Homo sapiens: one gene and its partner. The protein of the gene in region 1 purifies or fractionates together with the protein of each later gene. This does not show direct contact. Each region holds a gene or a part of one and is shown on either strand. Other genes may lie near its edges. The genes, in order: ZNF311 and NAXD.

Evidence for each region.
Region 2: the proteins of ZNF311 (region 1) and NAXD purify together in Homo sapiens (affinity purification with mass spectrometry; one large-scale study listed by BioGRID and IntAct). This does not show direct contact.

What each region holds. Positions count from the first base shown.
Region 1 is NC_000006.12:29,002,445-29,006,769, reverse strand, and holds the start of ZNF311 (zinc finger protein 311), read left to right. Parts: upstream 1-1,454; 5' UTR 1,455-1,762; exon of another isoform or gene 1,763-2,230; intron 2,231-2,335; exon of another isoform or gene 2,336-2,555; 5' UTR 2,556-2,815; coding exon 2,816-2,824; coding exon of another isoform or gene 2,825-2,899; exon of another isoform or gene 2,900-2,909; intron 2,910-3,175; coding exon 3,176-3,257; intron 3,258-4,325. UniProt on the Homo sapiens protein: May be involved in transcriptional regulation.
Region 2 is NC_000013.11:110,632,386-110,636,197, reverse strand, and holds part of NAXD (ATP-dependent (S)-NAD(P)H-hydrate dehydratase), read right to left. Parts: intron 1,654-3,812; coding exon 1,603-1,653; intron 1,527-1,602; coding exon 1,422-1,526; intron 731-1,421; coding exon 610-730; intron 1-609. UniProt on the Homo sapiens protein: Catalyzes the dehydration of the S-form of NAD(P)HX at the expense of ATP, which is converted to ADP.

The DNA of each region.
Region 1 (4,325 bases):
ATGAAGGAAAGTTTTTCTTTATAGAGGAGTTCTAACTAATAAATGTGAAAAAATTATTGAATTAGAAAAATTACAATTTTACAAACTCTAATGAAATGGGGTGGCTGAATCTATCAGATTAAAAGCCAGTGGGAAAGTTTACATGGAAGGATTCAGCTATCAAGTATTAAACCCACTGGTCAATCTTAGCATCAAAAACATTATATGCTTCCTGATGTGTGGCAAAAAGTACATAGCACCACCTAAGGATTCTTACTAACAAAGTTAAACCTAACTCTAATCAAACCTTTAGAGGTAACATCAAGTTTTACAGGAAATATGAGGCTAGAGAAACTAATAAAATGGGGACACAAATAGACAAAGCCAGCATGTAGAACATTCAGGACAAATGTCCCAATTTGTTCAATTAGTTGACTATATGAGGGGAAGACGAAGAGGAGGATGGAAGGAGGAACTAGTTCAGATGTGAATTTTAAAAGAATTAAGACACATGCCCAAATTAAATACTGGAACTTTAGATCTTGAATGAAATAGAAAACAAATGTAAGAAGCATATGTATATATTTAGGGAAATATAATATGGACTTGGTATTAGATGATAACCAGGAATTATTTTGTTAAATGGGATAATGGTATTGTGATTCTGTAGGAAAATATCCTTTTTAAAATAAATGCATAATGAAGTTGAAAGTAAGATATTTGGGGTTTGCTTTAAAACGTTTCAGCAAGAAAAAATGGAGATGGATGAAACAAGTGTGGCAGAATTTTATGTATTTTTAAATGTAAATGATGGGTATATATGGGTTAATTATACTCTTCTTTCGACTTCTGCATAGGCTTAAAATAGTCTTTACTTTTGAAAAAGACATTCAATTATTTGTGTTCTTAGTTAATATTTAAAAGTAACTTTTTCATATATTTGTCACAAAACTTCTGTCCATTCCTATCTAGAGGTTCCTCTACATGGGAAAAAAGGAGCAAAAGGGTAATATTTCTGCAACCCCTTTGCACAGGCCATAAACGCACGCAAACTCCTAGAAGGCTGAGCCGCGAGGAGGAGGGCGGAGAGTTTAAGGGAACGCCTAGACCAGAGAGTTGACGCCTTTCCTAGAAAATCACCGGAAATGATAATTGGCGGACTAGGAAGTGGAGCTTCTGTATATTTCTGTTTCTCATTTCTTGGGGAGAGTACCGGCGGGAAGGTCTGTGCCTTGGGCCGTCGTGGGTCGGAATTTGCAGCTGAGAGGAGAGGAGTCCGGTGCCGCCGTCGCCCCCCTCACCTAAATACCCGGGCCCCTGGGGTTGCAGGCAGGGGCGGGTCTTTGGGGCCAGATTTGAGGAGGGAGTCGGCTGCGGTTTCCTCCCTCGAAGCCATTCCCCAAAATGAGCATTTCCCGCCCATTTGCCCTACCTCCTCCCAGGGGCTCGTGACCCATTTTTTTTTTTTTTTTTTGAGACCGGAGTCTTGCTCTTGTCGCCTCCTGACCCATTCTTTTTATTCTTCTCTACAGCATCCATTCATATATTCATTCAGTCAGCTAATTTTTAATCCAGCACATACTATTGCAAGCGCTGTTTTAGGCGTTGAGAATACAACTGTGAACAAGACGACAAAAATTCCTGCCCTCATGGAGCCTAAGAGCCTAGATTTTAGCGAAGGTAGAACCACCGTAAACAATGTATATATTAATAAGTAACTTATGCACCATACTGGAAAATTATAAAGTGCTATAGAGGAAAAGAAGAATTCATGTAAAGCAAGGTAAGGCCCATCAGGATTGGAAGGAGGGGATAGGCTGCAATTTTAAATAAGGCACTCAGAGTAGACCTCCTTGGGAAGATGACCTATAAGAAAACACTTGAAGGAGGCAAGATTATTAGCCATGGAGATCGCTTAAGGTGAAGGGAGCAGCCAATGGAAAGGCCCTAAGATGAAAGAGAAGGAAGGTCGGTATGGCTGAAGATTGAGGGAGTGGGAGAAGAGTAGAAGGTGTTGAGAATGACACATCCTGTAGACTTGTATGCCACTCTTAAGACTTCAGCTCTTATTTTGGGTGAGCAGGAGAGGAAGTTAGAAGTCACGGGCACATTCAGTAGGGCCTTGTATACCTCGGTAAGGACTTCAGGTTTTATTTTAAGTATGAACCACTGGAGAGTTTTCAGCAGAGCGATGAAATGATCCAACTCAAGTTGTAAACGGACTACTCAGACTGCCCTATTAAGAAAGGAGGTGGAGCTTGCAGTGAGCCGAGATTGCGCCACTGCACTCCCGCCTGGGCCACAGAGCGAGACTCCGTCTCAAAAAAAAAAAAAAAAAAAAAAAAAAAGAAAGGAGGAAGGCAAGGATTGAAGAAAGGAGACCAGTTAGAAGACTACCGCAGTAATGGAAAGGAGGGGAGATAGCAGGTGATGGTGGCTCAGACAAGGGTGGTAGCCGTTGAGATTGTATTCTGGATATGTTCACATTTTCAGTTTGACTTCGTGCCTCAGGTTCTCAGTGACTCCCTATTTTTTCCTGTGGTCACATTCCTCTTTTCCCTTCACCAAATATGCAGGGAAACAAGATGTGAGATCACAGCGGTTTAGTGTTGCTAATGAACCCCAAATCCAGGGCAGTGTTTGACACATTAAGCCAAACAGTAGCGGCACTGTGGGTCAAGAAGGGCCCTTTGGCTGGCACCACCAAAACATGTGTTCTCCAAAGGAGGCTGGCATCAACTGGAGCCACTTCACAGCTTGTTTGAGAACTGGATCTGACCAGTAGGAAGAAACCAGGACAGCAGTGGAAGACTGTTAAAGAAACCTGAGTAAAAAGATGCAGGAGGTAAGAAGAGGAGGGTCTGTGATACATCACAAGGAGGAAGAAGGAGAAGTGAGTCCAAGAAAGAAGGAAAGCAGTGTGAGTGGAGGTGTGTCTGACTCTAGATACTGTTGGAGGTGTCTCCTCCTAGATACTGTTTTTGCTGCTTGACCTGGTGATCATTAAAGCTTTGTAGTTGTAGATGCCATTTCTAGTTTTCATAAGGTATTAGGAACTGAGTCCATTATTTTCTCCCTTCTTTTGGTATTTCTGGGAGACAGTTTCTGTGGATAGACCTGTATGGTTGCTTGCATCTTCCTATGTATTTTTCTCACCTTCATAACTTTCCTGAATTCATTCTGTGTCTTGCAATAGGTTGTGCTGTTGGATGAGAGTTCAGGACCACCAAGCCAGCTGCTTTGGACCCGCCAGGATACCCAGCTCCCTCAGGAAAGCGGTGAGATACACAGGAGATTGTGGCAGGAGTCACGGCAGCTGAGAATGTAGTAAGGACACAGAGTGGGTGGAAAATGCCACACTGGGGCCCAAAAATCTGTTCATTAATGAGCATTTATAGAAAGTCTTATTTTGTTTCTATACGAGGCTTGGATCAATATCTAGAGGAACTAAATATTCAGTTTCTGTCAGTATCTTAAATTTTGAAAAAAATCAGTGTGTAAAAGATTCTACAAAGCAATTTATCAGAAAGAATCAATGCAGTCAGGCATTTACTGTTTGTATAACCTGAGATATATGGTAAATAGCGTACATATTTGCACATATTTTACACTTATAAAACTTGTGGTATAATTCAGTAATTCCTACCCAAACATAATTTTGCCAACATGTAAAATTTGAATATATACAATTTTACTTCTGCAGACCTTTCTGGAGCCCTGATACTTTTAAATGATGTATAGATATCTCCAAAATATAAAATAAAGCAGTGACAAAAGAAGAAGCAAAAGTTTTCCCATTGAAGCCTTGTGCTCTTTGGTGGCGTATGTGAGGAGGAAAAGTGGTTAAGATTTGTATAAAAGCTGATGGTAGGCCGGGTGCGGTGACTTATGCCTGTAATCCTAGCACTTTGGGAGGCCTAAGTGGGTGGATCACTAGAGGTCAGGAGTTCATGACCAGCCTGGCCAATATGGTGAAACCCCATCTCTACTAAAAATACAAAAATTAGCCAGGTGTGGTGTAATGCACCTGTAACCCCAGTTACTCAGGAGGCTGAGGCAGAAGAATTGCTTGAACCCAGGAGGTGGAGGTTGCAGTGAGCTGAGATCATGCCACTGCACTCCAGCCTGGGCAACAGAGTGAGACTCTGTCTAAAAAAAAAAAAAAAAAAATTGCTGTTGGAGGTGCAACCTAGGAGATAGTATATAGCAATTCAGGAGTCATAAAATCAAACCCAGAAAGGCATAGACTTTTGGACAGAGGAGTAGGCACATTCAAAAGTAAGCTTTTTAGTATATGCTACCTGCAAAAAATAAAAATAAAATGTGTTTCTAGATATAGTGTTGAA
Region 2 (3,812 bases), on another chromosome or scaffold:
CATTTTCAGCGCTAACAAGGGCACGGCTCCCCAGATGCCTCGCTGGCGCTGGGCCCGGCCTCTGCCCTGCTCTCACTTGGCTCTTGCTGAAGCCTCCCCAGGCTCCGTGGGAGTGGCCAGTTGAGACTCGCCACACTCAGTGCCTGAGATTCCACTACCAGCATCAGCTTCGGGGCTTTCTGCACTTTCCAGTCATTTTGATAAAAGAGAATGAAATGCAATAAAATACCCAAATAACTGCATGGATGGTGGATGCCACAGGTGAGATGAAGGTGGCAGCTGGAGACGCGGGACCCTGCACTGTGCCCTGCTGTTGCAGGCACCCTCCCGCCAGACTGCTTCTCATAACTGAGGCAAGGGAATTCAACCAACGGGTAAGGCCCACGGCTCGAAAGCCTGCCCTCACCACTGTCACCTCCCCTGGCAAAACAGTGAAAAGTCAAAACATGGACTCTGAAGAAAGTGTGGTTGACGAGCTCATCAGGAATCCCTGTGTGAATGTGTGTGAACACGGGTGTGCACGGGAGAGGTCTTCCAGGGCTCATGCTCGGTGTGGCCATGCTGACTGACCTGGCACTGGCCCATGCACAGAGGGCAGCCGCCACTCACCCTGCTGGCCGTTGGAGAGGATGTCGCGCTCTCCTTTCTGGACCACCGTCACGTTGCCCAGGGCTTGGCTGAGTCTTAGCACAGATCCATGGCTGTCATCGCTGTCCATAGGGCCTCTGAGCTATGACAACACAGGAAGACAGAGAAAAAGCAAAGTCTTCCTCAGACACACGACGACAGATAGCCCTGTCCCATCCGCCATGAGACTCATGCTCTCGTGTCTAAAGGGATCACCCAGGCACCTGTTAAAGGCCATGTAGGTGGGAGGATGCCCAGGATATCACCTGCAGTGAGTCCTCCGAGCAGGTGCTGACACGGTGCCTGCTCCAGTGCCCATCCTCTACCTCATCAGAGCAGGCTGAAGGAGGACCACCCAAGACTGGGTTCTGAGAGCTTTGCAGGAGTAATACAAATTCCAGTCGTACTGGGCACTAACATTGATGGGACACTTACCATGTGGGGACTCACGGCTTTACATAGGTTTCCTCATCTCATCCTCACAACCCCGTGAAGCTGATGCCATCATCACATTACAGATGAGGCACTCAGGACACAGACAAAGTGACCTGTCCAGAGTGCACTGCAGGAGGGGCTGACTGACCCGAGTCCCTGCCTGTCCCAAGCCCACTACACCATCGTTCATCCAATCCAAGCGCATTAATGGGAAGACGCGCCATCCGCTGGGAGAGGCACAGCGATTACTTGCAGGTGTGTCCACAGGGACAGGCTGGGCAGAAGCATGGAGCTCGTCCTTCACCCTCTTCAGGACGAACAGGGCTTGCATCTACCCTCCAGGGGGTCCACTGACTCACCACAGCGTCATACAGTCTGCTGAACTCCACGTGGTTGGGAGTGAGCACAGCCTTCCGGTAGCCATGGATGAGGGCCGGCTGCTGAGCGACCAGCCACAGGCCATCCTGCACAGAACAAGGAGCCGTGCTCACTGCACAGGCCTTCCGGGAGTCCGAGCCAGGAGGAGAGAAGTCAACTCACCGCGTCGATGACAACAGGGATGTCCCTGGCCTTTGACACTTCCAAAATGCCCTGCCAGAAGAGAAAACCAGACTGAGCACCATGCCTGCTGCTATGGTGTGGGTATGTGTCTTCTCAAAACTCATGGTGAAACTTAATTGCCAAGGGAAGGGTCCTGGGAGGTGGGGCCTTTAAAAGGTGATGTGGCAGTGTCCTCATGGGTTGGTTTAATGACCTTTAAAAGAGGCATAAGGGTCTCTCTCCTGCCCTTCTGCCCTCGCCAGATGCCGGCACCTTGATGTTGGACATCCACCTTCAGAACTGTGAGCCAGTAAACGCCTGTTCATTATCAATTACCCAGTCTGTGGTACGGCTACAGCAGCGCAAAACCGACTAAGACACTTTTCCCAAGAGTGACAGAAAATTGAGCAGACTCTTAATAAAATGCAACATCAGGCCATCAAACAATAAATGGAAAATAATCAAGTAAATGAATAAAATAGAGAAGCAGAAAGACCCAATGAACTCGCAGAGCCCGTAAACAAGGCAGGACACTGGGAACTCTGAAAGGCGAAGCCCACTGGAAACGCTATGAACAACAGCTGGGCTCCTAGGCTAACCCATGAAGACAGCCCCCGCCCCAGCAAGGGCATCCAGTTCTCCAACAGATACTAATACGCAGCATTCGGAGGCAGGAAATCTGAATTCCTGAGAATTCCCCAAATCATTAGTCATTATGTATTTTTCATATCACTTTACTTACACGTTTTAAAATAACAACAATAATAAACAGGGAATCATTTTTCCCTGATAGGATTACAGTGAAGGTTTCAAAGGTTTTCTATTAAAAAAAAAAAACTACATGTATAGATACACACACATATATGTAATATTTGGTGGTTTTTATTATTATGAGCCAATACATTGTGACAAGATTATACACTGCAGTAGCATGTAAAGTGATCCTGACTTGACAGACACCTGATAATACAAAACATTAAAATAGAAAACATTAAACAAAATGAGAGGTGACAGCATGCTGGCAGTCCTCAGAGCCCTCGCTTGCTCTCAGCACCTCCTCTGCCTGGGCTCCCACTTTGGCGGCATTTGAGGAGCCCTTCAGCCCACCACTGCACTGTGGGAGCCCCTTTCTGGGCTGGCCAAGGCTGGAGCCCACTCCCTCAGCTTGCAGGGAGGTGTGGAGGGAGAGGCGCGAGCGGGAACTGGGGCTGCCTGCAGCGCTTGCGGGCCAGCTGGAGTTCCGGGTGGGCGTGGGCTTGGCGGGCCCCGCACTCGGAGCAGCCGGCCAGCCCTGCTGGCCCGGGGCAATGAGGGACTTAGCACCCGGGCCAGCGGCTGCAGAGGGTGTACTGGGTCCTGCAGCAGTGCCAGCCCACCGGCACTGTGCTCAATTTCTCACCGGGCCTTAGCTGCCTTCCCGCCGGGCAGGGCTCGGGACCTGCAGCCCGCCATGCCTGAGCCTCCCACCCCCTCCATGGGCTCCTGTGCGGCCCGAGCCTCCCCGACGAGCACCACCCCCTGCTCCACGGCACCCAGTCCCATCGACCACCCAAGGGCTGAGGAATGCGAACGCACGGCGCAGGACTGGCAGGCAGCTCCACCTGCAGCCCTGGTGCGGGATCCACTGGGTGAAGCCAGCTGGGCTCCTGAGTCTGGTGGGGATGTGGAGAGTCTTTATATCTAGCTCAGGGATTGTAAACACACCAATCAGCACCCTGTGTCTAGCTCAGGGTTTGTGAGTGCACCAATCAGCACCCTGTGTTTAGCTCAGGGTTTGTGAATGCACCAATCGACACTCTGTATCTAGCTGCTCTGGTGGGGCCTTGGAGAACCTTTATGTCTAGGTCAGGGATTGTAAATACACCAATCGGCACTCTGTATCTAGCTCAAGGTTTGTAAATACACCAATCAGCACTCTGTGTCTAACTCAGGGTTTGTGAGTGCACCTATCGACACTCTGTATCTAGATGCTCTGGTGGGGCCTTGGAGAACCTGTGTGTCGAAACTCTGTATCTAACTAATCTGATGGGGACGTGGAGAACCTTTGTGTCTAGCTCAGGGATTGTAAACACACCAATCAGTGCCCTGACAAAACAGGCCACTCGGCTCTACCAATCAGCAGGATGTGGGCGGGGCCGGATAAGAGAATAAAAGCAGGCTGCCCGAGCCAGCATTGGTAACCCGCTCGGGTCCCCTTCCACGCTGTGGAA